4 linked regions of the Homo sapiens genome follow. The protein of the gene in region 1 binds, or shares a complex with, the protein of each later gene. Each region holds a gene or a part of one and is shown on either strand. Other genes may lie near its edges. A codon is read from its position in the direction of its gene.

Evidence for each region.
Region 2: SRSF1 (region 1) and DDX5 share a complex: the UniProt entries of both Homo sapiens proteins name them as parts of the ribonucleoprotein complex.
Region 3: SRSF1 (region 1) and ARVCF share a complex: the UniProt entries of both Homo sapiens proteins name them as parts of the ribonucleoprotein complex.
Region 4: the proteins of SRSF1 (region 1) and TNPO3 are in contact, whole or in part, in a crystal structure (PDB 4C0O), measured with the Homo sapiens proteins. Residues at the interface, in NP_008855.1 of Homo sapiens: Ser116 (codon at 2,144), Arg117 (codon at 2,141), Arg118 (codon at 2,138), Ser133 (codon at 1,724), Trp134 (codon at 1,721), Gln135 (codon at 1,718), Lys138 (codon at 1,709), Asp139 (codon at 1,706), Arg142 (codon at 1,697), Glu143 (codon at 1,694), Gly145 (codon at 1,688), Asp146 (codon at 1,685), Cys148 (codon at 1,679), Tyr149 (codon at 1,676), Ala150 (codon at 1,673), Asp151 (codon at 1,670), Val152 (codon at 1,667), Tyr153 (codon at 1,664), Arg154 (codon at 1,661), Val172 (codon at 1,607), Arg173 (codon at 1,604), Asp176 (codon at 1,595), Asn177 (codon at 1,592), Arg181 (codon at 1,580), His183 (codon at 1,574), Tyr189 (codon at 1,356), Ile190 (codon at 1,353), Arg191 (codon at 1,350), Arg198 (codon at 1,329), Pro200 (codon at 1,323); in NP_036602.1 of Homo sapiens: His155, Arg157, Arg160, Thr167, Tyr254, Ile256, Glu257, Glu304, Glu340, Ile341, Phe343, Asn344, Tyr347, Arg348, Glu351, His352, Lys355, Thr356, Arg620, Asn656, Glu660, Arg661, Arg664, Arg667, Phe668, Arg671, Ser698, Cys699, Tyr702, Ile706.

What each region holds. Positions count from the first base shown.
Region 1 is NC_000017.11:58,004,233-58,011,573, forward strand, and holds the start of SRSF1 (serine/arginine-rich splicing factor 1), read right to left. Parts: upstream 3,015-7,341; 5' UTR 2,906-3,014; coding exon 2,712-2,905; intron 2,296-2,711; coding exon 2,111-2,295; intron 1,742-2,110; coding exon 1,569-1,741; coding exon of another isoform or gene 1,515-1,568; exon of another isoform or gene 1,369-1,514; coding exon 1,174-1,368; 3' UTR 1-1,173. UniProt on the Homo sapiens protein: Plays a role in preventing exon skipping, ensuring the accuracy of splicing and regulating alternative splicing.
Region 2 is NC_000017.11:64,503,290-64,510,662, forward strand, and holds the start of DDX5 (probable ATP-dependent RNA helicase DDX5), read right to left. Parts: upstream 3,001-7,373; 5' UTR 2,831-3,000; coding exon 2,787-2,830; intron 2,649-2,786; exon of another isoform or gene 2,501-2,648; coding exon of another isoform or gene 2,457-2,500; intron 1,554-2,456; coding exon 1,388-1,553; intron 1,030-1,387; coding exon 933-1,029; intron 828-932; coding exon 694-827; intron 580-693; coding exon 514-579; intron 283-513; coding exon 141-282; intron 60-140; coding exon 1-59. Other genes in the region: CEP95 (centrosomal protein of 95 kDa), read left to right, coding at 5,140-5,431, 6,884-6,991. UniProt on the Homo sapiens protein: Involved in the alternative regulation of pre-mRNA splicing; its RNA helicase activity is necessary for increasing tau exon 10 inclusion and occurs in a RBM4-dependent manner. Binds to the tau pre-mRNA in the stem-loop region downstream of exon 10.
Region 3 is NC_000022.11:20,013,804-20,021,292, forward strand, and holds the start of ARVCF (splicing regulator ARVCF), read right to left. Parts: upstream 3,021-7,489; 5' UTR 2,786-3,020; intron 1-2,785. UniProt on the Homo sapiens protein: Contributes to the regulation of alternative splicing of pre-mRNAs.
Region 4 is NC_000007.14:129,045,101-129,052,120, forward strand, and holds part of TNPO3 (transportin-3), read right to left. Parts: intron 1-7,020. UniProt on the Homo sapiens protein: Importin, which transports target proteins into the nucleus. Specifically mediates the nuclear import of splicing factor serine/arginine (SR) proteins, such as RBM4, SFRS1 and SFRS2, by recognizing phosphorylated SR domains.

The sequences.
Region 1 (7,341 bases):
TGCCAACACTTGTTACTGTACAGCGTATTACAGGTTTCGTGGTTGCAAGAAGTTACGTAATTTAAGTTTACTGGCATTGCTACCCACCTAAGTCTAAAACTAAATCTAATGCTCCCATTTGCAATTTAATTTGTAAATTAAAGTCTTTTAAACATATGAACCAATTATGAATATTAGTTTAAAGGGGAAGGTGAGACTTAAAAGTATTCCCAACTAGATTATCTACACCAATACATTGGAACTCTATATTTTGCTTTCATTTTGTCTTAAAAAAATGAAATAGCAACGCTCTATCAGTCACACAGAGGACATGCAGATTTAGCAGTATTGATATTATACTCTATCTTGTTGGATTTAAAAACACCCTGTACCCACATGTACACCAACAGCAGGTCACACATTAACAGTTGTAACTAAGCACTGTGACAAATTAGCCAGTTCTTCCCACATTAGTCCCTATTAAAACAAAAATGGGGGGAAGGGAGCAAAATAAGTTGCTACAAAATGGGCAATATAATTTTGCCACAATTGCCAAGGTTTAAAAAGCAAAGCAATTGTAGCTAAAGACAACTGAATAAAATGTTTGCAAGTGTTTTAAGGAAAATGTATATAATCATTTTTAACCCCTGCCTTTTAGTATAAGGTCAATACTGCCAATTTCATCTGTGACAATAGCACTTGGAGTCATACCATTGCCTCCATTATTGATCTGATCCTCCTCAATCCTCCTTTTGACAATCCTAAAATGATTGAAATGTGCTCCACAATCCTTAATCCAAAGCATTCTTAATCCATCTCTTCAGATATGTCTACAGAAAGACACATGAAAAGCAAGATAAACATAAGAACTTCCCCAGGTAAGATAACCACAAACACCCCCAACATCCCAGTTCACACAAACCAGGGCAGATAGACATTTACACAATATCACAGTCTGAAGAGTATGGAGTTAACTAAATTTAAACAATCCTGTCTATGACATCACTTAAAATACAATTTATCAAAGACACGAAGGGAATGTAGATGTTAGGAGCAAGGGGATATTACAAGAATGCAATTCAACACTTTAGCCCATTCTGAACAAAACAGTTTGAATTAAAAAATGAAAAGATTGTACTGAATAAAGGAAAACTGTATACAACATGGGTTCTACAAAAAGTGTCACCAATCATCTTATGTACGAGAGCGAGATCTGCTATGACGGGGAGAATAGCGTGGTGATCCTCTGCTTCTCCTTGGGGAGTAACTGCGACTCCTGCTGTTGCTTCTGCTACGGCTTCTGCTACGACTACGGCTTCGAGATCGAGATCTTCCATAACTTGGACTTCTGGGCCCATCAACTTTAACCCGGATGTAGGCAGTTTCTCCCTATTGGATAGACAGAACTTTCCATTGAAAGATCTAAGCTTTCATCTATCTTCAGACATGCTGAATGAATACAATGTAACTAAAACCAGAAATCTGGCAATTTACTTGGACAACCTTGCCTGAATCCTTACCTTGAAATTCCACTGTTAAGACCACTGTATCCAATTCTGGTCAAAGAAAAGAATACGTGTATAACCTACCTCATGAGATCTAAACTTAGTGTTATCCAGTTTTCGAACTGCATAGGTCATATCTTCTTTCCGTACAAACTCCACGACACCAGTGCCATCTCGGTAAACATCAGCATAACATACATCACCTGCTTCACGCATGTGATCCTTTAAATCCTGCCAACTTCCACTTGGAGGCAGTCCTGAAAAAGTGATTTTTTTTTTCTTAGTACCAATTATCTTAAATTTCACGTTAAGCTGGTAAGGTACATTAGGACAAAGAGTACTTTAAAGTACTTAATAGGTGTACTTAAGTGATACCAGGTAAAGAGAGCTGGTAAGATTCTGGAATCCAGAGTCCAAAATTATTTGTAACGATCTTCGTATCTAGTACCGCAACCTAATTTGGTAAATCACCACAGCAGCAATCCTCGTTTATTAAATTCACCCAAAAACTAAAGCAATTTAAGACCTAGCATGAAAAATTTGCAATTATTAAACCTGTCACGCAAGAGAAAAATTTTAGGTAGTTTTCGTCCCTTCACATCAATCCACACAACCAGTACACTCACCAGAGACAACCACTCTGTTTTCAGACCGCCTGGATGGGGGGCCATAGCGACCTCGGGGAGCTCCGCCACCTCCACCCCCGCCGCCGCCTCGGCCTGTTCCACGGCCGCTTCGAGGAAACTCCACCCGCAGACGGTACCCATCGTAATCATAGCCGTCGCGACCATACACCGCGTCTTCCGCGTCTCTGCGGGATCGCAGAAAGTAAAAGGGATGAGAAACACCAGGAGGAGAAGCTCGCTCAGTTGGGAACCAGCAAACCCCCCGCACATGCGCACCCAACGTGGAAGAGCCCACATGCGCCGCATAATAGGAATGGCCCCTCCCCCACCCAGAAACACGCCAGGCTCCCAACCACTACACCAGCCCTCAGCGCCTCAGTTTCCCGCTCCAGCCTGCGAATGGGCTCCGGGGACGTCCAAGGCGAGGCGCCAGAGAAGCCACATCAACTCAGCTCCTTACTCGACTCCTGCATGGGCGATACAGTCTCGCCCCAACCTCTCTAAGAGCCCCCGCTTCCCCGTTCTCTATGTTAAGGCCTTGGAGCCTTCCCCAACTACTCGGACCTATTTCCTCAAGGCTGCAAGCCCCATGCCGCCTCACCGCGGGTCCTCGAACTCAACGAAGGCGAAGGGCGGTCCCCCGCGGCGATTCTTGAGGTCGATGTCGCGGATAGCGCCGTATTTGTAGAACACGTCCTCAATGTCCTTGGTTCGGATGTCTGGAGGTAAGTTACCCACGTAGATGCGGCAATCGTTGTTCCCTGCGGGGCCACGAATCACACCACCTCCCGACATGGCGGTGACGAAAAGCGCGGACTCGAGAACAGGCCTTCCCACCAAGCCTAGCGCACGGCAGAGCGAGCCCGCAGCGGCACCACGTCTCCCGCGGCCCCTCCAAAATGGCGCCTTTATCAGCTCGGCGCACGGATATGGGGGGGAGACAGAGGAAGAGAAGCGGAAGGAAACAGCGATTCGATCCCAACACGCACGCGCGGGAGCGCAACGGGTGCTGCGAGGGCTACGTTCAGCGCACGCGCACGCACGCGCGACGTCACCCTCCCCACGAAGGGGGTAAAAAAGTCCCCCGCGTTCCCAGCTTGGGGTGGTTTGCGAACAGAGTGACCAGCCGTTTGGTAAAAGTTAAATAACGAACTTTCGTTAAAGGAGCTAGTCATCCAGGTCGGGTCTTGAAGGATGGTCGATTTCTCCAGGAATGAGGATCTTTGAAAGCAACTCGGCGCCTTCAAAGCACTTGGTGAAACCTAGCCTAAAGCGTTGTCCCACCATGCTCTGCGGCGATAACGGCCTTTGGCGGGAAAGAGTCTCGGAGGCGGGGCCAAAGGGGGACGGCCCGGGCGGTTGCTCCGGAAACCCGGGTATCTTCGTAGGGTGCGTCTAATCCAGAGCTGAGTTGCGGGTGATTGAACGGAGAGCTGGGGCGTTGGTTTGTCTTCCCGCCCCTGCTGCGAATAGACCGTGGCTGCTTAGACAGATGTGTCTAATTTAGCGAAACCGATTTAGATTCCTTAATCCTCTTCATTAAGTACCGTTCCGCCTTCTCGTCAGAACTTTGCATAGCTCGGGTCAGCACTCCTAGTGCTAGTCGCAGTGGGTCCGTATCCCGACCGGCAACGTGGTACCCGCCAACCAGAAGGGGTAACACCGTACCGCCTATGGGACCCACACCTTTTTATCTCTTGTTAGTCGCCTGTCCGTGGGACTAGCGCAGAATGCCTGCAGAATGAATCGTTTCTGTTGTTTCCTTTCAAAGAACGAGAAGGAAGAAAGGGTGCGTGTGTGCAGTCCTTTTTTCAAAAGTTTTCCCTAAAAGTTACTGATACACCAGGTTTTGAAAATACCGGTCCTCTCAGGTAATAAAATGGAGCAAAATGGATGTGAGAACCGTAACCACTAGATACCGCGGTTGCTATTCAGGACTGTGATCCTGTTTGCCTGCGGCATTGGGAGATAACATTTTACATTTTTTTTCGACGTCTGAAATCTGGATTTTTATGTGAAATCCTGGGATTTTTAAACGTCGCTAATGAATTAAAATTCAAATCAGGCTGGGCGCGGTGGCTCACGCCAGCACTTTGGGAGGCCGAGGCGGTTGGATCACTTGAGGTCAGGAATTCGAGACCAGCCTGGCCAACATGGTGAAATCCCGTCTCTACTGAAAAAACAAAAAATTAGCCGGGCTTGGTGGCAGGCGCCTGTAATCCACTCTACGCGGGAGGCTGAGGCAGGAGAATCGCTAGAACCCTGGAGGCGGAGGTTGCAGTGAGCTGAGATGGCGCCATTGCACTGCAGCCTGGGCTACAGAGTGAGACTCCTCCAAAAAAAAAAAAAAGGAGGGGGAAACAACAACAAATTAAAATCAAACCCTGCAGTCATAAATTTGCCATAACAGATCTACACACTGAATTTAAGGGATAATTTTCTTCATGTTATTTATTTACAGTAGTCCCTTTCCGCAAGGATGTGAGGCAACTTACAGAGATACCATAAAACATGAAAACTAGATGAGGCTGGGCGTGGTGGCTCACTCCTGTAATCCCAGCACTTTGGGAGGCCGAGGCGGGCGGATCACCTGAGGTCAGGAGTCGGAGACCAACATGTCGAAACCCGTATCTTCTAAAAATACAAAACATTAGCTGGGTATGGTGGCGCGTGCCTGTAATCCCAGCTACTCGGTAGGGTGAGACAGGACAATCTCTTGAACCCTTAGGAGGTGGAGGCTGCAGTGAGCGGAAATCACGCCACTGCACTCCAGCCTGGGTGACAGAACAAGACTCCATCTCACACACACACAAAAAAAATGCTAGAGTAAGAAATCAGAGGAATGGGAAAATGAGGGGTGGATTAAATGAAATACGCATAAATTACTATACAAAATGCCTGCAGTGAAAGCCCGTTGAATTTGTTGAGATAGATTGCAAATTTTACTTTAGTCTTCCCAGAAGTCACGGTAAAGAAGGGTACAGAAGTATTGTGTATTCAAAATCCAAAGTGCCTTTGGGATAAAAGTAAATAGGTCATTCAGGAGAAGGACATGTTTTCTTAATTCTAAAAGCTGATGAAATATATTTTACAAATGTTTCTCGGTGACCCCAAAATACAAATTCAATTTGAAATGAGCAGGGATGCTTGGTCTTGTGGCCGTAGATCCTCGGTATATCTACAGATGACCTTTGGTAATCCTTGAGCTTTCTGTAATATTTTCGAAAATTATATGCATGTGTGCATGTACAAAATTATATGCATGTGTGTACTTTTTTCTGGGAAGAGGATTTGGAATTTTAATCAACTTCTTAAAGGAGTCCATAGATCCCAAAAGGAAAAAGAACTTCTGAAATTTGTCAAGGGAAGGATAGATTGCCTATTCTTCAGACCATCCTTTAAGTATATATATAGATGTGTGTTTGTGTGTGTGTGTGTATATATATATATATATATATATATATTTTTTTTTTTTTTTTGAGACAGAGTTGCCCTCTGTCACCCAGGCTGGAGTGCAATGGCATGATCTCAGCTCAGTGCAACCTCTGCTTCCCTGGCCTAAGTCATTCTTGTGCCTCAGCCTTCCGAGTAGCTGGAATTACAGACATGTGCCACGATGCCCAGCTAATTTTTGTATTTTTGGTAGCTGGGATTACAGGCATGAGCCACCACGTCCAGCTAATTTTTGTATTTTTAGTAGAGACGGGGTTTCGTCATGTTGGCCATGCTGGTCTCGAACTCCTGGCCTCAAGTGATCCTCCGGCCTTGGCCTCCCAAAGTAGTGGGATTACAGGCATGAGCCCCTGCACCTGGCCGGCTTTTTTTTTTTTTTTTTTTTTTTTTTTTGAGACAGGGTCTTGCTCTTTCACTCAGGCTGGAATGCAGTGGTGCAATCACAGCTCACTGCAGCCTCGACCTCCTGGACCCAAGCGATTCTCCCACCTCAGTGTCCTTCGTAGCTGAGACTACAGGTATGCATCACCACTTCAGACTGATTTTTGTATTTTTTGTAGCGATGGGGTCTCGCCATGTTGCCCAGGCTGCTTTTGAACTCCTGAAGTCAAGCGATCCTTCCATCTCGGCCTCCCAAAGTGGGGGGATTACAGGCATGAGCCATTGTGCCTGGCCAGAGCCTGATATGTTTTTAAATGAGAAGGTGACCAAAAAAGATACTATTTCAACAAATCTACTGTTTCTAGCATTGTTCCATTAAGTGAATGGCAGAAAAGAGGAGAGTTTTTAAAAACTTGCAGCCTGTTGATTCTTTCATTCAACAGTTATTTGCTGAACACATTTTCTTTCTGTTCTTTTATACATCAGTTTAAATTTATGCAGGCAAAGCTTCTGTTAATCATAAGTCAATGATAACTGAAGTGATAACTGAAATCAGTAGTTTATAATTGGATAGTTCATTTTAAGAAGGGATGAGACAATACACATAGGTACTTTTAATTTCAAGGTAATTTCATTCCAGAAAAATATAATTGAATTTGCTTTTTGTTTGTTTGTTTGAGGTGGAGTCTCGCTCTGTCACCCAGGCTGAAGTACAGTGGCAGGATCTCGGCTTACTGCAATATCCTCCACCCAGGTTCAAGTGATTCTCGTGCCTCAGCCTCCTGAGTAGCTGGGACTACAGGCATATGCCACCACGCCTGGCTAATTTTTATATTTTTAGTAGAGATGGGGTTTCATCATGTTGGCTAGGCTGGTCTTGAACTCCTGACCTCAAGTGATCTGCCCACCTTGGCTTCCCAAACTGCTGGGATTACAGGCATGAGCCACCACACCCAACCTGAATTTGCTTTGATTTATTCTTGTCTAATTTAATGCAGTAATTTCTGATTTTGTTCAGTTCAGCACAGTACAAAGTAAAACTTAATTGAGAGTGAATAGGACATTCTTATTTCTGTTGGCATCTTTTTTTGTATTTGAATGTAACCAACTGTTCTGGAGTTGATGATGAGGTCAGTATATGGCAGGAAAAGTCTTGACGGCTGTTTTATCAGGTCTTGCAGGATGGCGTTAGCTTTGTGATGATTACAATTAAGGATGTTACCAGTTATCCAGAGTTAACATATTTCAGTCCACAAGAGTAAAACATCAAAAAAGCAAGTAAACAATTTATTTGGAAATAAGAACAAAACAAGGTGAATCATTTTGAGGGATATTTCATTCAGATCCTGAGACCTGATAAACGATCCCTGCCCCCACAGCAAAGTATTTCTCTCCAA
Region 2 (7,373 bases), 6.5 Mb from region 1:
TTTTCCACACTCTAAAAAGTCAATCAGTCTTCCAGGTGTTGCAATACAGATTTCCACACCTTTAATTAAATACGTAAGTGTAACTACAATACCTAGGATATTTAGCACCAATGACAAATAAAACCCTTTTCATTACATACCTCTCTCCAAATCACGTATTTGTGGTCCCTTAGGAGCACCACCGTAGATACAAGTAGACTTCAAGCGACATGCTCTACAATATTCAGCAGCTACTTGCTGCACCTGTTGGGCCAGTTCCCGAGTTGGTGCCAGCACCAAACACTAAGGAAAGAGAAACAGCTTTCAGCACAAACCTGGATACTAGTTTTAAACTGCTAACTTATTATACTAGCAGATCCTTTCTTCATGTGTTGTCCAATACCCAAAACAGCTCCAGCTGAATAGGGTGAGCTAACCTCTATATAAAACCACCACAAATGATTACATCTTTAGCTATGTAGTCTAAAATCTACACATTATGCTTCTAATAAAAAGTTAAAAATATATACTTACAATAGGCCCATCGCCTCTCTCTAGGAATGGCTGATGATTGATGTGGACAATGGCAGGAAGCAAATACTATTTAGGGTGAAAGTGGGGACAAACAGAAATCACATTAAAATACTCGTTTTTAAATTACCATTACATTTTCTTGCATATATCAGATCAACTCAAGAGTTCTCCCAAACTTACAGACAATGTTTTCCCAGATCCAGTCTGTGCCACTCCAACCATATCCAATCCACTTAGAGCAACTGGCCATCCCTGAGCTTGAATAGCAGTGGGTTCAGTGAAATTCTGTCTTGCAATAACATCCATGACATTTGCTATAATTAGTAACAGATATTTAGTAAAAATTAGTGATGCCAAGAAAAAGAGGGGGTAGGTGGAAACAAAAACACGGGTAGGTAGAACTGAAAAGTAGCACTTACCAGGGAAATTGGCTTCATAAAAATTTAGAACTGGCTTCGGGCAGTTGTGACCTCTAACTGTAATTTCCTTGCTTCTTCTGTATGTTTCCACCTCTTGCTGCAAAACAAATTATAACAGTCTTAAAATTCATGACAACCACCCCTAGCTAAATACGTAATTGATAAGCCCCTAACTTCATAATTTAGTAACTAGTTTAAAGTAGCCTTCATTTTAATCTGGACCCACCTATGAACACCCTATTATGAAAAAAAAAATTTATTGTTATACTCAACCTAATTTAAGTAAAAATCCCAAAGCCACCTATATCCAAAAGTGAGTCACACCTTTCCCAATTATGAAGTCAGAACATGTAACTCTACCAAAATTGAGTTATTTGCAAAACACCTGTCAGAATTTCATTTACTAGAATCCACGATCGAGTTACAGCCTGATGAAGCCACATGAATTTACTCACTGCTGTGCGCCTAGCCAAATCAGGGTGCTCTTGATAAAAATTCTTCTCAAATTTAGGCAGCTCATCAAGATTCCACTTCTTTTTAACTAATTTCTCCCCAGGGTTTCCAAACTTCTTTCCAGATAAGGGCCCTGCCCTACTTCCTCCAAATCGAGGTGCACCAAACCTGGAATGAAAAAAAACGTTATTCACATTTTCAAATGGCTATACCCAGGTTTCTGTATAGATTTGTCATCCATTGGCACAAGCTAAAAACCACTGAAAACAGACTTCGAGAGGTAAACCTAGCACTGTCCTTCGTGAAAATCTCTCTCTCTCTCAACAGCCACAGTTAACATTTCCCGTAGTCCCAAGTACACATTACTTAGGTCATGTAAACAGCCTGGGATTTATCATGTCGGAAGCCGGGGATTTATCATGTCGGAAACTTGTCACCCACATGCCAGAATTTGGGATTCTGGCACACACCACTTCTTGTGGTTACTGTAATCTTCCCCACCAGCCTAGCAATTCACTATCAGCAATAACAAGGCTACATGAACCGAAGAGCATCACGACGATGTTACTCATATGGCCGTTTTGGAACCAAACAGCTTTAGTGGTAAGAACCTAAACAGTACAGTCAGCGATAACAGAACAAGGGTTTTCTCAGAAACACTTCTGCTAGCAAACCCAGCTGGGGGAACGCCGCGGTAGAGCTCCGGATCAACGAATCAAAATTATATAACGCAGGAAAAAAGAAAAGGAGGAGCCGGCGACTACCGGGGGAGGAGTCCCGGCCCGGGCGGAGTCGGCCGGGCGGCGTTCCCGCTGGGGCGGCGCTTCCCCCTTTGTCTCGCATTTCTCTCTGCGCCACATTTTCTCGACGCTGCCATTTTGAGCTCCTCCGCCGGGCGGGGTAACAAAGGCGCCGCCGCCATGTCCGAGGCCGGCATTTTGTACTCGCGACTCAGCCACATGGCTGATGCCGGCCGCCCTCCTACCCCAACAGCACCAGGGCTTTGGAAGTGGTCCCCTCGCTCCCACAGAATGCCCGGCCACCCCAAAAACACCTCCCGAAACGCCGCACCTAACAGATGTTCCTTCGTCTGCCTCGAAGCGTCCCGCTTTCATCCGCACAATACGCTCCCTCTCAACTCCCTCAACAGCTACCAAATGGCAGCCGCCCCGACAGCTCCCCAATCCCCACACAAAAAGCAAGCTTGAAGACACTACACCGTCAAATCTCTTCCAATCACTGTGACGTGAATATCAAAATGGCGCAAGCCTTCGGGAAAGGAAGTCCCAAGATAGCCCGGAAAGGCCAAGTCCAAGCCGCAAAGCCCCCGCCGGCCGCCACCCTGACCCGCCCTCCCATCCCCCCACCCGCCAGGCCTGACAGCTCGGCTCCCAAACTCACCCTCGGTCCCGGCCGCGGTCTCGGTCACTCGAATAACCCGACATGGCGTCAATGGTTGCGGTTGGCGGGGAACGAAGTATATAGAAAAGCGTGCGACAAGTCGCTGGAAATGGCCTCGATGACGGCGAAGCCTTGCGGGGGCGGCAGCGGAGGAAGGACACCGATGACACCAGCCGAAGCTGCACTACTAGAGACCGGTAGAAATGAATGAGGTGCCGGCCGCTTTCCGGCAGCCGCTTTTATAGTCTGGACCGCCTCCTACGCCGCAGGGAACGCTGGGAGCCGCTCTATGACCTAATCGCCCCGCCCCTCGCGCATAGGCCGCAACGCCCGCTGGCGTTCCAGGATCGCCGCGCTTTCACCCCTCCCCGCGCCACTCTCTCAGGTCAGGGCCCACCCACCATTGGAATGCCTCATTCTGCACTCTCTTGACCTCACCTTCTTCTGGTCTTTCCACACCTCAAGCAAGCCACCCCGCCCTTTCCCAAGCCCAGCCCCGCCCACCCTCGCCACTCGGAGATGTTTACGTCTCCAAAGAGCCCTCACGTCTGTAACCAAAAGAGGGGGAAGGCGGGGCCTGGCGTTGTCACGTGGCTGTACCACCCCGGACCACCGAGAGAGCGGTCCGCACTACTTTCCCGTTGACGTCGGCGGAGGGATACAAAACGAAATAGCTCACCGGAAGTGCGCTGCTCGCACCCCGGGACCCGCCCGGGCTGCCGGCTGATGTGGACCGTCCGACCCGCGTGTCTGATAATCCTTTGACGGGTTTTGGTCGGCGGAGAATGGTCTCTAAACTTCCCAAACCGCCCCCGTTTCACGTCCTGTGAAAGGAAGTGCTCCTCTGATGACCAATCAGCGGCGAGAAGCTCTTTTAACGTCCGTCCTTCTTTCACGCCTCCTTCCCCGCGCTTTGGTTCGTGCGTCCGCGCCCCAGTGTCGGGTCTGCGTGGATCGGTCCTTCCAGGACACCGTCGCCTTCCCGGCCGCGTCGGAGTCCGGCGGCGACCTGCCTCTGAAACATGGCAGGCTCGGATGCTGGTGAGTGTCTCCCTGGGGTCCCAGTATGTGTGGACTGAAACCGTCCACCTCCAGGGAGGCCTCGGGCTAGCCCGGACTGGGTCTGGGCTGTCGGCGGGGCTCGTGACCTTCAGACGCCGCGTCGCGCTGGCGGGTTCCCTGGATAGGGTCTCTCAGCTTCACCACCTCTTCGCTTCGAGGCCGTGGAACAGCAGTATGCTGTGGGAGAGAGAGAGGCACTGGGGCGAGGCCGGTAGGACACTTGGGTCCTGGCTGTAAAAAGAGCGGTCAGAAGGGTCGTCCCCGGACTTGTCTTTCTGTGGGGCGTCTAGCCGCTGTCCGTGTGCCCTCCGCCCTTGCACTATGGGCCCTGAGGTCGTACCTGCTTTTGTATTGGTCTTTAAAGGAACAGCATTCTTAAGATTTATTATGCCCCTGCAGAATAGTAGAATATGCCCCTGTAGAATAGTTGTGCTTTTTTCTCTTCAGTGCCCTCTAGAGTCATGGGCTTTGTCTAGCACCGCTTTTGAAGAGCGAATTAATTTGGTTGTCTAGGACGCTTTCATCCTTTTCACAAGGACTGCGTACAAACCAGTTGTCATGGTTTGGCCAGCTGTGAGAAATGGGCGTGGGGAGGGGGATTATGTGCATGGAAAATACACTCTCATTCGTTTCCAGAACGTTACGTGTCCAGAACATAGTGGAGATGTTTGTTTCTAATACCGATTGAAAGTGCTTTCCTACCAATTCCCAGGCATTTCAAGGAACAAGTATTTTAAGCTAAGTTACTTTTGGTACAGAAACCGTTAAACTTTGCAAATCCCAGCAATATCTAGGGGAGAGGAGAATGTGGTACGCAGGAAACGTCAACAGTATTGATAATTCTGAGCTTCATGTACTTCCCATATTTTCTTTCATATAGATCGATATAATAAAAAAGAAAAACTAACAAATGCATTACCGTTGATGTTGTTATTATACCAGTTCTTAACAGCCTAAGTTTAATCACCACTTTTTCCGGCACCAGAGAAACCCTGACTTGCACAAGATAATTGGGTAAACACAAGACCAATACTATTGCAAGTGCGAAGCAGCCTCCATTAATGAGTTTCTGGTAACCTCGGATTATCATTAAACTGTTGTTTATGACATAATATTCCTGTTTACTTGTAAATATGTTTTAACTAAAAACACCCATGTAAGGCTTATATAAGTAACTTAAGATTTTAGGCTGCAACAGTATCAATTGAATTTGCAGTATAGTTTTGACTATGTAGAAATTACAGCACTCTGGAAATCATCCCAAGAAATTAAATACATCTTTTTAAAAACCATGCCTAAAGGGTCTTTGAAATTCTCTAACAATCAAATTCCTTATCTTCTGCAAAGTTCAGTGTCTGTTTTTGTTGGGGGGGAGGTTGTTGGATTTTTTAAATGTCTGTGTGATTTTTTTCTGGTGGTTTTTAAGACTGATCTTTCCCCCTTTTTCCCAACAGAGTGGGTAACCATTGCCAATAACCTTCTTTTTAAGTGTCATATACATCTGAGAATACATGAACTTCAAGACTGTGATGCTAATGTTTTTATTGCTCTTTATCAGTCTATTTTGGGAGAAAAGGTACCAGGTAAGAATACTAAAAGCAGGAGTAATTTTGCCTATATCTTAGGCCAAAAGTTTTTAGTCCTTTAGTTAGATTCTTTGATATTTATAAAATTTCATTTTCTCTTTGCTTGTTTCTTTTTTTAATATTGCATATTAAATTCTATATTAATATACAATATTAAAATAAATATTGTATATTAAATTGTATTTAATATCACATATTGTATAATTATAATATTGTATTCCTTAAGGAATACCCTGTGGAACCCACTCATAATAACGGCCTTGAGCAGATCAGTTTGAGGGCTCCTGATAATCACGGCTTAACCTAATCATGGCTACTGCCTTGTGAAAGTTGCATCTTTTCTGTAAATGTACCTTCAAAGGTTGTAAAATTGAGTGGAGCTTGGGAATTTATTGGATTCTGTTACTTAACCAGTGCTAGGGATAAGAATTGATGCTTGTAGATGATGAACCTCATTTACCAAGACAGTTAATAAGCGCATATGTCCTTTCATCTTGCTCACCATCTCACTATGTTCAAGACCAGGGTGGTACCAACTCAGCTTAAGTGATCCTCCCGTCTACCTCCCAAAGTGATAGGATTACAGGCATGAGCCACCACGTCCAGCCTGTGCTGACCTTTTAAATCTTTATACCAATAATTCTAGTTGGCTATTCAAAAGGACATATAAGGGCCAGGCGCGGTGGCTCACACCTCTAATCCCATTACCTTGGGAGGCTCATCACTTGAGGCAGGTGGATCACCTGAGGCCAGGAGTTCAATACCAGCCTGGCCAATATGGCAAAATGCCATCTCTGCTAAAAATACAAAAATTAGCCAGGCATAGTGGTGCACGCCTATAAACCCAGCTACTTGGGAGGCTGAGGCAAGAGAATTGCTTGAGCCGGGAAAGTGGAGGTTGTAGTGAGCCAAGATCACGCCACTGCATTCCAGCCTGGGCGATAGAGCGAGACCCTGTCTCAATAAATAATAAATAAACATACATATGTGTATATATAAGAACGCTCCTTGAATGCCTGCTGTGTTTTTTTTTTCTTCGTAGAAAGTAGCCCATAGTTATGGGTTAAAGTATCATGTCTTGGCTCCCTTATTAGACTATTAGCTGTCTTTGAATTTAGGGACCACTTTATCTTCCTTAACATGGTGCTTCTTGTAAAGCATATTCATGTATATCTATATATCTATATATATATATATGGTGTAATAAATATTCAACCGTATTCAACCAGTCTAATATTGATAAATCGGTTCAATCAATAAATACTCAACCAGTAAAGATTCTGCTGTGTAGAGTTCAGGGTTTATTAACTTTATCTGTACTTTACAGCATGTTCTGTTTGGGCAGAGCCTTTATAGCAGTTGAGCATATTCAGTAGCCTAGTCAGAGACAATGAGATGAAAACTTGGCCTCTCATGGATACAAAATTATGTGATTTTTTCCCCCCCCAGACCTCATAGTTATTCCTAGGAGTCAAGAAGATGATGCACACAATGTACAAGCAGTAATTGATTCACTGGCCTTGGACTACTTGCAGGTCAGCTTGTCTCACATAACAGGTTGGTATATGTATAACTATCACATAATTATGCATTTTAGTAAAAATAATTGTTAGAACTGTAGACATTGTTTACTTAACCAAATGAGTGAGCTTATGGAGTAGACCAAATTGTAAGATTGAGCTAAGACAATCAACTGATAGAGGTCAGGTCCATACATGAGAACTTTTCCAGGAGAGCTGAACATTGATTTTGCAATTGATCTGGGTCTGAAACGTAAATATCCTAGCTGGTAATTTGAGGTGTGTTTTTTGTTTTTATGTTATGTTGTTTTATTTATTTTTATTTTTTGATTCAGAGTCTCTGTTGCCCAGGCTGGAGTGCAGTGGTGCAATCACAGCTCACTGCAGCCTCAACCTCCCAAGCTCAGGTGATCCTCTCA
Region 3 (7,489 bases), on another chromosome or scaffold:
CTGATCCCAAGTCCCCTCAGAGTGACCCAAGACTTCATCTTGGGTTTTTCTGTTTGTTTTTTTGTGGGTATTTTTTTTTCTTTTTTTGAGACGGAGTCTCACCCTGTCACCCAGGCTGGAGTGCGATGGCACAATCTTGGCTCACTGCAACCTCTGCCTCCCAGGTTCAGGCAACCCTCCTGCCTCAGTCTCCCCAGCAGCTGGGATTACAGGCATATGCCACCAGGTCCAGCTAATTTGTTTTGTATTTTTAGTAGAAACAGGGTTTCACCATGTTGGCCAGGCTGGTCTCAAACTCCTGACCTCAGGTGATCTGTCTGCCTGCCTCGGCCTCCCAAAGTGCTGGGATTACAGGTACGAGCCACCGTGACCAGCCCATCCTGGTTGTTTTGTTTGTTTTTGTTTTTTGGAGATAGAGTCTCGCTCTATCACCCAGGCTGGAGTGCAGTGGTGTGATCTTGGCTCACTGCAACCCTCACCTCCCCGGTTCAAGCGATTCTCCTGCCTCAGCCTCTTGAGTAGCTGGGACTACAGGCGCATGCCACCATGCCCGACTAATTTTTGTATTTTTAGTAGAGACAGGGTTTCACCATGTTGGCCAGGCTAGTGTCAAACTCCTGACCTCAGGTGATCCACCTGCCTTGGCCTCCCAAAGTGTTGGGATTACAGGCATGAGCCACTGCGCCCGGCCTCATTCTGGTCTTAATTGAAGCTGCTGACAAAAGAACAGACACCTCCCCATGACTAAGCCACCATCAGGGAAGTCCCCAGGACCCCCAAGGCCCAGCTGGTGCTCTGCAGTGCTGTCCCTGGACCCCCACCCTCCATTCCTGGCCCTGTCTACAGAATGGGCCCTGACTCCCTATCCCAGCTCTACCCTGTCACTCCCTCTGCCAGGGCCAGGCGGGGAGCACGACAGATGGGCTGGACAGAGGGTGGTGCCTGGCATCCGTGTGCAGAGCTCCCTGCTCCACCCAGAGACCGGGGATCCTGCTGCTCCTGCACCTTCTGTCCTTACTCAGGACAGCCTCATGCTCCCCCAGGCCAGACTCCTGGGGTGAAGGAGCACAGGGAACTCACCCTGAATCCCTGTGTAGCACAAACAGAAGGAGGGGTGCTACCCTACCCTCACAGAGCCACAGAGATGCAGAGGGCCCCGGGACTGGGGGGAGACTACAGGGCCACCTCTGGAGGGAGTGCCAGAGCAAACATGGGAGCCAAGCAGCCCAGATGTGGTGGGTGGGGAGACTCAAATTTAGCAGGATTGAGGGTCAGAACTTGTTCTCCCAGGAGGAACCTTGGTCAGAAGGTCCTTGTGTTTATGCTGAAAAGCCTGACAGGGCAGCTCAGCCAAGAGCTGGGCAGGGGCTGGCTTGGCTGTGCTCAACTACCCTCTCAGCTGGGACTTGAGTCCCTTAGCGAATGTTCTGTGCCCAGTCCTCTGCTGGGCGCTGGTGGACCCCAGAATGGGGGTAGGGTGGGGACAGGGGACAGCTGGGAGCAGACATTGCGGATAGGATGGGGCAAGACTGGGGGAAATGCCTTCCCAGACACGCTGCGGCTCACACTGTCGCCTGATCTAAGGCCTGGATCACCTGCTTAGGAGCTGACCGGCCACTGGCATGGCACACCGGGCAAGAGAGCGCTGACTGCCCCCCTGCATTCAGCACCATCCCAGCTCCAATAGAGTGAGTACAAGATAGGTAACACCTGCCTTGTTTGGACCAGACCTCTAAACACCGCCCAGATCCCAGAGTAAAGGCAGATAAGGCAGTAGTTAAGAAGTAGGAAGAAGTAAAGGCAGCTACCCCAGAGAAGCTAAGGTCGGGAGAGGTGGAGGCTCCCACTGCACCCCCCTGGCCCATACCATAGGGGAGGTTTCCCCCACAGCAGCCTGGGTACTCACCTGAGGTTATTAGACAGCAGCATTAAGAGCCTACTCTAAAAAATACCCACGGGGCACCTTTCTTTTCCTTATTTCTAAATATGCCTGGATGTAGGGAAAGGGAGCTGAAGTCCTTTAGTTCCATTTTAAGTATGTTACATTACACATAGCTAAGAAACGGTGAAATATTGTAAGCAGCCAATATTTAATTATTTAAAAATTAAAATAGGCTGGAGCTCTCAGGCCACCTGCCCAGGGCGACTCCCCAGCAAACCGAGCAGTCTCCCTCAGAGTGGAGATGACATGTCTCCGCACCGGCACCGAGGGGGCGCAGGGCGGCGTGGGGAGGGGGACCCAGGCCGGGGGTCCGGGTGGCGCGCCCTCTCTCACCCCCGAGGCGGCAGGAGCAGCGCGGCGCGAGGACACCTCCGGGCCGTCGGTGCCCCTGAGCTTCCCGGCGGCGCGCTGCCCCAGGAAAGTTCCCGGCCTGCCGCCCCTCGGGCTGTTGGAAAGTTTCGGCGGCTGCAGGGCCCTGGCAGCTAGGCGCCAAGCGTCGCGCGGGGCGGGCACGGCTGCGGGGTCGGGCCGCGCTCGGCTGGAGTGCTCAGTGCAAGACGCCCGGACGGGTAGGGTAGGGCCCCAAGGCCACGCACAAAGAGACCCGCCCCCGCCGGCCCGGGGTCTCGGACGCCGCAGAGCGCGCGGACAAGACGCGGGTGGGGCGGAGATTGGCTCCGACGTCCGGCCCAGACCCTCGCCCGGATCTCGACTCCAGGGATAGGACCCTGTCCGGACCGCTGCCCGGAATGCGTCCCATATCTGCAGCCCCGCCCCCAGTCCCGGCTCCGACCCGAGGCCCCAGCCCCGGGTCCCACACCCCGCCCACTGGCTCAGGCTTACCTGGAGCGCAGCGTGGGCGGCCCCGCAGCGCGGCCTCGGACCCCAGAAGGGCTTCCCCGGGTCCGTTGGCGCGCGGGGAGCGGCGTTCCCAGGGCGCGGCGCGGTGCGGCGCGGCGCGGGTCGCAGTCCACGCGGCCGCAACTCGGACCGGTGCGGGGGCCGCCCCCTCCCTCCAGGCCCAGCGCGCAACCCGAGACCCCGGGCCAGCCCTCCCGCCCTCACGCGGCCCGTGCGCAAAGCGGACCGGGCCGGCGACGCGAATCTCCGCCCCGCCCCATCTGACAGCAAATTTTCCCATTGGTCGAGAGACCCGGCGCGGCACGGCAACCGGCGCCGATTGGGCGGATGCGCGGAGATGACGGCTTGCCATTGGGCCTCCGGGATGTCAGTCCCGGCGGATGACCGGCCCCCTCGCGGAGGGGCCGCGGCCCCGCACCTGCCCGAACCTCTGCGGCGGCGGTGGCAGGGTACGCGGGACCGCTCCCTCCCAGCCGACTTACGAGAACATCCCCCGACCATCCAGCCCCGAGCAGGGACTGGCAGAGCCGGCGCCCCTTCCCCGGACTCTGGCCGCGTAGCCTCCGCCACCACTCCCAGTTCACAGGTATCCTTCTTCAGCGCCTGCTACTCGCTGCGCGCTGCGCGCCGCTCCCTCCTGTCGACATCGAATTGTATTCTTCACGCAAGCCGCGAGAGAGAGTTCTGCTGCTATCCCCATTTTACAGTTGGGAAACAGCCTCAGAGAGGTTCTCACTTGCTTGAACACAGTCGTCTGACCCTGGGGCCTGGGGGCTCTCTCATCCTCACGCCCCTGGGTCCCCGCAGCGGGGAGACGATGGAGGTAGGAGCTGCAGTATTTCCGAGGGCAGGAAGGGACCCCCTCGGTAAACCAGGGGCTCACCTCCCCCACCAGGCCTGGATGTAGAGACCTCTTGGGCTTGTCCCACCCTGCAGGCCCCCCATGGGGCCGCCCTTTCTTACCTCCTCCTGGCATTCTCACAGCCCCACAGCTCTGCGTCTGGGGAGGCAGAGTTGTGCGTTTATGCCCGCACCCCGTACTACTGTCCCATTTTCTTCACCCTACCTGGAGTCAGGAAGAAACGGTGCTTCACTGCCTGTTGAGATTCACGTAGGTTACATTTCCTTGCCAGATTAAGAGCACCTGACATGAGTGGGACCATGACCCTCCGCCAGCTCTGCGTAACCTTGTGGTGTAGGGGGGAACCAGCAGGGATGCTGCCCAGTGGGCTTTTCTAGGGGGAGGTCCTGAGATGACTTCTTAGCCAGTGACCCTGGCTCACGCATGCTGTCATCCTTTCCTGCCCTGGATGCACCTGGAGATGACCAGTTCCTCGGCTCATTGCATTCTCCAAGGCCGCCTGGGGAACCAAACTGCCCACAACCATGCTTATGAGTGGTGGAGGGGTGTGACCAGACACTCTTGTCTTATCCACCCATATTGGGAGTCCAGTGTGTTCATCCAATCATTCCTTGGCCAGGACAAAGAAAATGAAATGGCCCAAGGCAAGAACTCACTGCTGGGACCACCGCTGGGTCCATCTGTGTGCTGGCAGCATGGTGAATCGATCCCAGCTGCCTTTCAGAGCCAGGCAGCTACTATCAATCGATTGGAGCTGGCACTTGACGTGCCAATTGGCCTCCTGGCATAGGGTTGTTGCTTGCTGCTCTGGGAGGGCAGAATGAAGTAGCTGTCCCTAGAATAGGGGCCCTCACAAACCAGGTAGCTGTCATCCTGTGGAGCAGCACCATGGTGACATTCTGGCTCAGGTGCTGTGTAGCTGAGGGGTCGTTTCCTCCATTTAGGAGTAGACGTAATGAGTCCAGCTGTCCCCAGCCATCTCTTCAAGGCCATTGGACCCTGGTTCTGCTGGAGCCCCTCTTCTCACAGTTACCTCATAGTCCTGCACCACCCCCTCCCCACACTTGCAAGAGGGACTGGACAGACCTCTGTTGAAAGAGTGCAAAAGACAGAACCATACACCAAAATCTGTGCAAGTGAGACTACCTCTCCTCTCATCACCACCCCTACCACCCATAGGGTTGCAGAGACCTGTCTGCCCTCGGCAGGCAGGATCATTAGCTGAGGTCAGAGGATGTCGGGGCAGCACCAATTCAAACAGGACTCAGGACCGCTGTCCAGCAGTCGGCCCATTAGGCTGCAGCCAGGGGTCAGAAACACAACAAGGGAGGCTGGGCGCAGTGGCTCATGCCTGTAATCCCAGCACTTTGGGAGGCCAAGGCAGGCAAATCACCAGAGGTCAGGAGTTCGAGACCAGCCTGGCCAACATAGCAAAACCCCATCTCTACTAAAAGAATACAAAAAAAAGTAGCGGGGCATGGTGGTAGACGCCCATAGTCCCAGCTACTTGGGAGGCTGAGGCAGGAGATCGCTTGAACCTGGGAGGCGGAGGTTGCAGTGAGCTGAAATTGCACCACCGCACGGCAGCCTAGGAGACAGAGCGAGACTCCATCTCAAAAAAAAGGAAAAAAGAAAAAGATAAGAAAAACACAGCAAGGGAGACCACAGGGACCAGTAGCCCAGTGTTCTCCCTCTCTCATCCTCTCACCTAGCTCCATGCGGACAGCTGTGAGGCCCCCGGAGAAAGCCACAGAGAGAAAATGCTTTCAGCTGGGTGTCAAGAACTTTTCAAGAGTGGCAGCTGTTGAAATCAAAAGAGTGGCCACAGAAGGTAGTGAGCTTCCTATCTGAGTTTGTGTGCAATTAGAGGTTGGATGCCAGTGAGCCTGTTGCAGCCCCAAGATCCCAGGGCTTAGGTGCCCATCCTAGACCCATTTCATCTGCCGTCACCTGCTTCCTGGCATCGCATGTCATCCAGACTGGAGTGTCAGTGGTGACAAAGAAGATCAGAGTGTCTGCTCTGGCTCTGTCTAGCTGGGAAAAGTATGGCTGGGGGTGGGGATGGCCCAAGGCCACAAGGTATGACAGAACAGGATGCAAACCACCATCTGACATGTTACTGCATCCCTCTTTGTGGGCAAAGGGAAACCTTGGTCAACTCATGTCCAGCTTTGAGGTGCATGGCCTGGTGCTTTGGGGAAGCCCATTCTCCAGGTGCTGCCATGAACCCCAGGGCACAGTCCATCACCCCCAAGCCCCAGATCCCACTTGTCCACCACCACCACCTCTTGGCCCTATAGATTGCATAGGTTTGGCTGCTCAGAGGGAAATCACTGGTACCAGCCCCACATGATCCCACTGCTGGATGGTGGGAGAGACAACCATGTCTGGCTGGGTCTGCGGCCCGCTGGCCATGAGTCCCTGGGCATCTGGAGTCCTTGTAAAAGGTTCTGTTGGGTTCCAGGGGAAACACAGATAAGATAGCAAAAGTGTGGAGCACAACGGGCCCGCATGTAGGTCCAGGTTAGACTCTTGCCGTTGCTGATTACCAGCCAGGCTCTTCCCATCCCTGAGCCCCAGTTTTCTGCAGGGCATCAGGGCACCTAGGTCTTCAACACAGGTTGAAGCTAATGTGGCCTCTCTTGCTTGCCACCTTTTTCAACTTCAACTGAATGACATAACTGCTCCAAGTCTCAGTGTTTACATCTATAAAGTGGGATGAAAGAACTGCTGACCCAGACATTGGGTTTAGAGTGCTTTACACATTATCATTATCCCTAATGTCTTTGTCATCCATGTCATAGTTTTTTGAATGCTCACTTTGAGGCAGGGCCTGAGCCTCTGGGCTTTGACTCTCCACCTTTCTGCCACATAGGCCCAGGCACAGCCCAGAGGCTACAGGAGCAGCGGTCCCAGCTAATGCCTCTGTCCTGTTGGGAGGGCCCCAGTCAGTGCCCACCTGCTCACCCTGCACAAGTCAAGCTGGGCCAGCCCCTCGTCGCTGGGGCCTGGACCTGGATGTGAGCTCAAAGGCTACACTGGGGGGTGGAAGTGGGGGAGGTGGTGGGTGTGCAGGGTATAGTGCTCAAATGCCTAGTCCAGGGTCTGGGGGTACATACTGGGAATGGCAGGGACATCAGGGAGGAAAGAGCCGACCTGGAGGCCATAAAGTGAAGGAAGGGATGACCAAGAGGAAGATGGCCAGGTCCAGAGGTGGGGTTGAGTGAACAGGATGGGGAGACCAGGACGCAGTCTGAGGGGGCCAGTCCGGAAGTGAGCATTCCTGTACCTCTTCCGAGAGAGGCCGCAGGGTGAGCAGGTGACAGATGGTGTCCATGAGGGCATGGACTCAGGGGCGGCTGCGACCTCCCATGGCGTCCCTGCAGGCAGGGAGCCGCGGAGTCCCCGAAGGCCGCTGGATCAGGAAGCGCTCAGACGCCCGCGCAGCCCGAAGCTTTGGCGCAGCCCCGGGGGCGGGGCGCCAGGAGGTGGCAGCCTCCGAGCGACAGCGCGCCCAGCCAACGGGACGCCGGCATGCGGCGCGCCGCCCCGCCCCTCGCTGCGCGGCCCAATGGTGAACGCGCCGGCTTCGGGCTGGGCGGTACTGGGCTGGCTGCGGTGGCGCGCGGGCGCGGCACCCGGAAGTCGGCGGCGGTGGCGGAGGCGGTGAGTGCGCGGCTCCGGGGCTGGCCGACTCCGCTAGTGGCCCGGCCGGCCTGGGCTCGGGGGCTCCGGGCTCTGGGCTCTGGGTGCGCGGACCGGGCCAGGCTGCTTGAAGGTGGGTGGGCTGGCCGCACTTCCTCACCCTGCCTCAGTTTCCCCTT
Region 4 (7,020 bases), on another chromosome or scaffold:
AAAAGGCTAAATACTGTATGATTCCACTTACATGAGGTACCAAGAATAGTCACATTCATAGAGACAGAAAGTAGAATGGTGGTTGCCAGGGATTGGGGCGGGGAGCAAATGGGCACCTATTTTGTTTAGTGGGCATAGATTTAGTTTTACAAGATGAAAAAGTTTTGAAGATGGATGATGGTGATGGTTGCACAACAATGTCAATGTATGTAATACCACTGAACTGCACACTTAAAAATGGTTAAAATGACTGGGCACGGTAGCTCATGCCTGTAATCCCAGCTACTTGGGAGGCTGAGGAGGCAAGATAGCTTGAGCCTGGGAGTTTAAGGCTGCAGTGAGCTATGATCGCACCACTGCACTCCAACCTGGGCAACAGAACAAGACCCTGTCTCAGAAAAAAAAAAAACGTTAAAATGCTAAATTTATGTTTTGAATGTTTTGCCACAAAAAAAAAAAAATCTATAAAACCTACTTTCCATTTCCTCCATAAACATCAGTGCAATCAATCACTGTAAAAGAATGCTGAAGAAATATCTGAAAAACTTTGGAAAAACTATTGTAATTAGAAAATATAGTAGTACCCTGATAATTTTACATCCTAAATCAAACTATCAACTTTGGCCCAAGGCCTGGCAAGACAAGAAACTAATCAAAATATGGAGAAATGCCACCACATAACAGACTACCATGGCAACAGAAATACTGTCACAAAATCACAAACATAGACTCCAATACTTCAAAGACATGAAATGTTCTATATTTGTACCGTACAGTACTTGGAATGTGGGTAAGTGCAAATAAGAAACTGATTTTAGGCCGGGCGCAGTGGCTCATGCCTGTAATCCCAGCACTCTGGGAGGCTGAGGTGGGTGGATCACGAGATCAGGAGATTGAGACCATTCTGGCTAACACAGTGAAACCCCATCTCCACTAACAATACAAAAAATTAGCCAGGCATGGTGGCATGCACCTGTAATCCCAGTTACTCGGGAGCCTGAGGCAGAATTGCTTGAACCCGGGAGGTGGAGGTTGCAGTGAGCCAAGATTGCACCACTGCACTCCAGCCTGAGTGACAGAGTGAGACTCCGTCTCAAAAAAAAAAAAAAAAAAAAAAGAAACTGATTTTAACTTTTACTTAATTTTAAGTTTAAATAGTCACACTAGACTGGTGGCTACTACACTGGATGACACAGCTACATTGGTACACTCTCTGGGAGAAAGATCTTTGGTTTTCATTATTTACATACTCCCAGTTTCTATCAGTGCAAGGCACAGAGTATTCCTAGACTGAACTCATCTACTGAAGTTGTATAGGAATATTTTCTATTTTCTAGAAGGCTTTCCTTTCAAAAGCATGTTTTGACTGGAAGGTGCAAGCATAAGCACACACAAAAAATGCCTAAACTTTCAAGATAAATCAGTAATGACCAGAGAAAAGCCAAAAACCCTAGGTTTTATAACCAGGCTAAAGAATCAATAAATTCCAAAAAGGAAAAGTACTAGCAAAGAAGTTTGAAGCTGATATTCCATGACCCATGTATTAATGTGTTCTCACACTGCTAATAAAGACATACCCAAGCCTGGGTAATTTATAAAGGAAAGGGGTTTAACTGACTCAGTTTCACATAGCTGGGGAGGCTTCACAATTATGGCGGAAGACGAAGGAAGAGCAAAGCGACGTCTTACATGGCGGCAGGCAAGAGAGAGCTTGTGGAGGGGAACTCACATTTATAAAACCATCAGAACTTGTGAGACTTATTCACTACCACAAGAACAGTATGAGGGAACCCCCCATCATGATTCAATTACCTCTACCTGGCCCCACCTTGCCACAAATCGGGGGGTATTATTACAAGGTGAGATGTGGGTGGGGACATAGCCAAACCATATCAACCCAAGACCTTTCTGATATGATATCTAAGAAGAAAATTCCTATGGACATGTGATAAACCAAACATGACAATGCCAACTTAGTCTATCAAAGCATGACTTTACTTCATCTGCTTTGTGCTTTTGATGCTTTCCATCAAAAAGCTGCATACACCCATGCTGAAGCATGCCTATTCAGTTTCCATACTGAACTATAAAACTTTTGAGGTAATATCTAACCCAAAGATTGTCTCTGTAAAAGTTATCTCCTACTTACAACTTAAATTAAAAACTTATAACTGAGTCGCTTAAGTAATTGGCCCTATGAAGAGATGGTCTTTCCTTCAATAGCTCTCTACAACTTCTACTAATTTTGGTTAGTAGGGGTGGACAAATGAAACTACTAAATATACAGGACAGGCTACTAAGATTCCTTTAAGATCTGCCTCAAAATACTCTCTTTCAGAACACTTTGAAGTTATCAGTGATATCTATCTATCACATAAAACAACCATGGCTGTACATCTCCAAAAATTTTGGTGGAAGTTTAGAGCAATGAATACAGATTCTTCAGAAAATGGCTGTTTTATACAAATATTAGAGAAAGAGAAAAGATGCTAACTCACAGTACAGGCTAAAGCATATTCAAATTATACCTCTATACCACGTCTACTGTCACCAGGTCATTCGAACTATACTCAATTACTCTCGGATTAGTTAGGTGGGGTGGTAGAGAAGAATAAGGATAATAGTTTCACAAATACATATTCTTGAAAGTAGTTTTTTAGCAAACCACACAAATTCTATGCCTTACCAATTTCAAATGGATGTTAAAACACTATAGTTATTACTACAGTTAAAACACGCTTTTGTTCCAGTAGACAAAATCTTCCGGAAAGAAAAAAACCACCACACACATTACTTTTGGTTACAAATGCCATTTAGTGACCACTTAAAGAGAGCCTTGGCCAGGCACAGTGACTCATGTCTGTAATCCTAGCACTTTGGGAGTCTGAGGTGAGAGAAGTGCTTGAGCCCAGGGGCTTGAGACCAGCCTGGGCAACATGGCAAGACCCTGACTCTACAAAAAATACAAAACATTAGCCAGGTATGGTGGTGCATGCCTGTAGTCCCAGCTGTCCAAGAGGCTGAGGTGGGAAGATCACCTGAACCCAGGCTCAGGTGAGCAAGGCTGCAGTGAGCAGTAATCACACCTCTGCGCTCCACAGCCTGGGTAACAGAGTGAGACCCTGTCTCAAAAAACTAAATAAATAGACCAGGTGCAGTGGCTCACACCTCTAATCCCAGCACTTTGGGAGGCCAAGGCGGCCAGATCACTTAAGGCCAGGAGTTTGAGACAAACCTGGCCAACATGGCAAAACCCCAATCTCTACTAAAAATACAAAAATTAGCCGGGCATGGTGGCATGTGCCTGTAGTCCCAGCTACTTGGGAGGCTGAGGCAAGAGAATTGCTTGAACCCAGGAGGCGGAGGTTGCAGTGAGCCAAGATGGTGCCACTGCACTCCGGCCTGGGCAACAGAGTGAGACTCTGTCTCAAAAAATAAATAAACAAAGAGAGCCTTATTGAGTCAAAAAGTTCCTCTCCCTTTCTGTACCTGAATATTTGCAAGTATGAAATGAGGGCAACATATACATCTCATAAAGGATTTAAAAAAAAAAAAGAAAGAAAAAAAAAGACTGGAAAGACTGAAGAGCATTAAAGGTGCTGAATATTGTTTATTTTTAACCATGTATATGGTGAAAAGTGACAGCAAAAATAAATAAAACTCGCAGATAAAGAAAAATGTGAGTTATCCAACTGAGTATCTGCATGTATGCACTTCTGACAATCAACATTTTTAAGAACCTGTGTGTGAAGTGTCTTGATTGTTTATCTTAATAACCATGGTTTATTTCTTCAACTATGGGTATTGGACTACATAAACAAATGTGACAAGAATCCCAGTCTAGTAGGGGAGGCAAAACACTTATTTTCAAAAAGGTTTATAAAAAGGCAAACACAATGAAGTAAAGTTCTCTAGGCATTCATTGGGGGCTGAAATCACTTTTGGCTGAAGAGAAGCAGGTAAGCCTTGAAGGAGAAAGCAGAATTTAGGTTGGGCTTTCAAAAGATGAGTTAGTTTCTGCATTTGAAGAAAGGGTTGGGAAAGGGTAAAAGCAGAGAAGAAAGTAAAGTTGGGCAAAGGCGGCATCCACTCTACCCCAAAATATTTGTGTACTATGAGAAATATTTCAGCTATTTGGATGCTGATGGGAAAGACTCAGTAAAGGAGTCTAAAGATGCAGACAAGACATAGGATAAACCAAAAGATCAAGGTCCCAGAAATTTCAGAAGATTGAGAGATGCAAAGCACCTAGATCTGACAAGAGGAGAAGCAGCTGCATACAACCATGCTGAAGTCTGACCAAATTGGAGGGGAAAGGTGATGGTGTATTTATAAAATGACTAGAATGATAGATCTTGGAATCCACATTTGGTAAGGAGAGAAGTAAAAACAAGAAGACCTAATAAAGAAGAAGTAAGGAACAGTCAATGAACTGAGGTTTTGATAAAATTCAAGAACTAATGCAGGGACTTCTGTTTAAAATGACTAAACTAACTGATTGAACACAGCTGTCTGCTTTCAGGTCCTTCCAAAAATCCAATAAAAATCAGAGTAAAGATCTTTTTTAAAAAAGGCAAAAACACATAAAGACAAAGAAAATGGAAACAGGTGACAGATATCAATAGAACTGTGGAAACTGGAAAGCTAAAGGACAGTGTTAACTGTCTTAGCAGATCCGAAAAGGCTGATATTTGCCTGGGGGTGGGGAGGGAGGATGAGACGAGAATAGGGAAGGCAAGGGACAAACTATTCATGTTGCAAAACCCAGGAAGACTGGGGAATTGGAAGCACAGGTACATCTGAAGGCAGATGCACAGGCGGAACAAAAAATAAAGGAGTGGAGCTGGATGTGGTGGTGTGCACCTGTAATTTCAGCTACTCAGGAGACTGAGGAGAGAGGATTGCCTGAGACCAAGAGTTCGGGTCCAACCTGGGCAATATAGCGAGACCCCAACTTTTCTTTTCTTTTTTTTCTTTTTTTAAAAAGGGTGAGGTGGGGTGGGCTGGGCGCAGTCACTCATGCCTGTAATCCCAGCACTTTGGGAGGCCAAGGTGGGCAGATCACAAGGTCAGGAGACCGAGACCATCCTGGCTAACATGGTGAAACCTTGTCTCTACTAAAAAATACAAAAAATTAGCTGGGCATGGTGGCAAGCACCTGTAGTCCCAGCTACTCTGGAGGCTGAGGCAGGAGAATGGCGTGAACCCGGGAGGCGGAGCTTGCAGTGAGCTGAGATGGCGCCACTGCACTCCAGCCTGGGAGACAGCGAGACTCTGTCTCAAAAAAAAAAAAAAAAAAAAGGGTGGGGGGGGAATCGGCTAGTAATGCAGCCTTAAAACAAAAAAAGAAAAAAGTTTAAATAAATAAAAGGGTCAAAATCTGTGTAAGAAGCAGTAGACTCCTAAATTTCCTCTCTGACTCTGAGCAACCAGGCTACTACTCTCCCACCATAACAGAAGACTCAAGGTTTACTGTGGAAAGATTGAAGTAGGTGGTCTCTGGACTCTTAGACAACAGACTCAGCTAAAGACAGGAGTATCATGCTGAAAAACAAGAGATTAAATTAAAACCTACATACTTAGTTGTGAGATCCATCCCCTGGCTTCATTCCCTGAACTGGCTTTAGAACACTGGCAGTCTAGCTTATAACCCCCAGGCTGACTAGAGAACTCAAGGTAAAAGCAGCCCAAGAAAAACAGACCAACAGAAAAGCAATGAGAGAAAGGATGAAGGTTCCCTTCTCGATGATCCATTAAATGGAAGAGTAACCCAAGAAAACATCATGGAATCCAAGAATCAGTGGATCCAGCACAACAAAGAGGCAAAGGGAATTCCCTAGGACAGTGTTTATGGAATCCCATGACAGTAATTATCCAACAGACCTAGCGAACCAGGCCAGACTGGAGCAGGGAAATGGAGGGCTCTTGGGATACATATTTCCTTTAGCCAAAAAAGAAAACAAATCACCAGTCTGAACAATGAGGATATTTACAGTACTGAGATTTGAGGGTGACTTATTGTGGATACCCAGAAAACAAAATGTTAAAAAAAAAAAGAGGTATTTGATTACCAACAGGAAAAAAAAGGTTCCACAAAATTTTGTTTTAAAAATAAAACTTAAATATTAGTAAAACTACATAAAGATTTCAAAAAAAACTAGGTGACATTATTTGATATTTTTGAGCCAGCAAACTGGAAAACAGTGGGTTATGATCACAGCAGAATGTCTGAATCAGTGATTTGGAGGTGTGGTGACTTTTTTTTTTTTTTTGTACAATCTTGCTGTTTCCCAGGCTAGAGTGCAGTAGCGAAATCATAGCTCACTCAGTCTTGAACTCCTGGGCTCAAGGGATCCTCCTGAGTAGCTGGGACTATAGGCAAATGTCACCACACCCAACTAATTTTCCTATTTTTTTGTAGAAATGAGGTCTCGCTATGTTGCCCAGGCTGGTCTTGAACTCCTGGGCTCAAGGGATCCTCCACCTTGGACTCCCAAAGTGCTGGGATTACAGGCAAGAGCCAATGGGCCTGGCCTGGCTGGCAACTTTTTTGTTTTTTTTGAAATGGAGTCGCGCTCTGTCGCCCAGGCTGGAGTGCAGTGACACAATATCAGCTCACTGCAACCTCCACCTCCTGGGTTCAAGAGATTCTCCTGCCTCAGCCTCCTGAGTAGCAGAGACTACAGGTGCGCACCACCACGCCCAGCTAATTTTTGTATTTTTAGTAGAAACGGGTTTTCACCATGTTGGCCAGGCTGGTCTCAAACCCCTGACCTCAAGCGATCCGCCCGCCTCAGCCTCCCAAAGTGTTGGGATTACAGGCGTGAGCCACTGCACGCCCAGCCTGGGTGGTGGCTTTTTAGTAAAGACAAGATCCAGGGTGTGATTGTGTGACCAGGTGGCTAAAGAGAATGAAGAGGTAAAGGAATCAGAAGGCCAAAGTGTTAGCTGAACTGTCAATCCAGATGCTGAAGTTGCCTAAACGTGATGTGTTACTGCTGGATATTTTCCAGATCCACT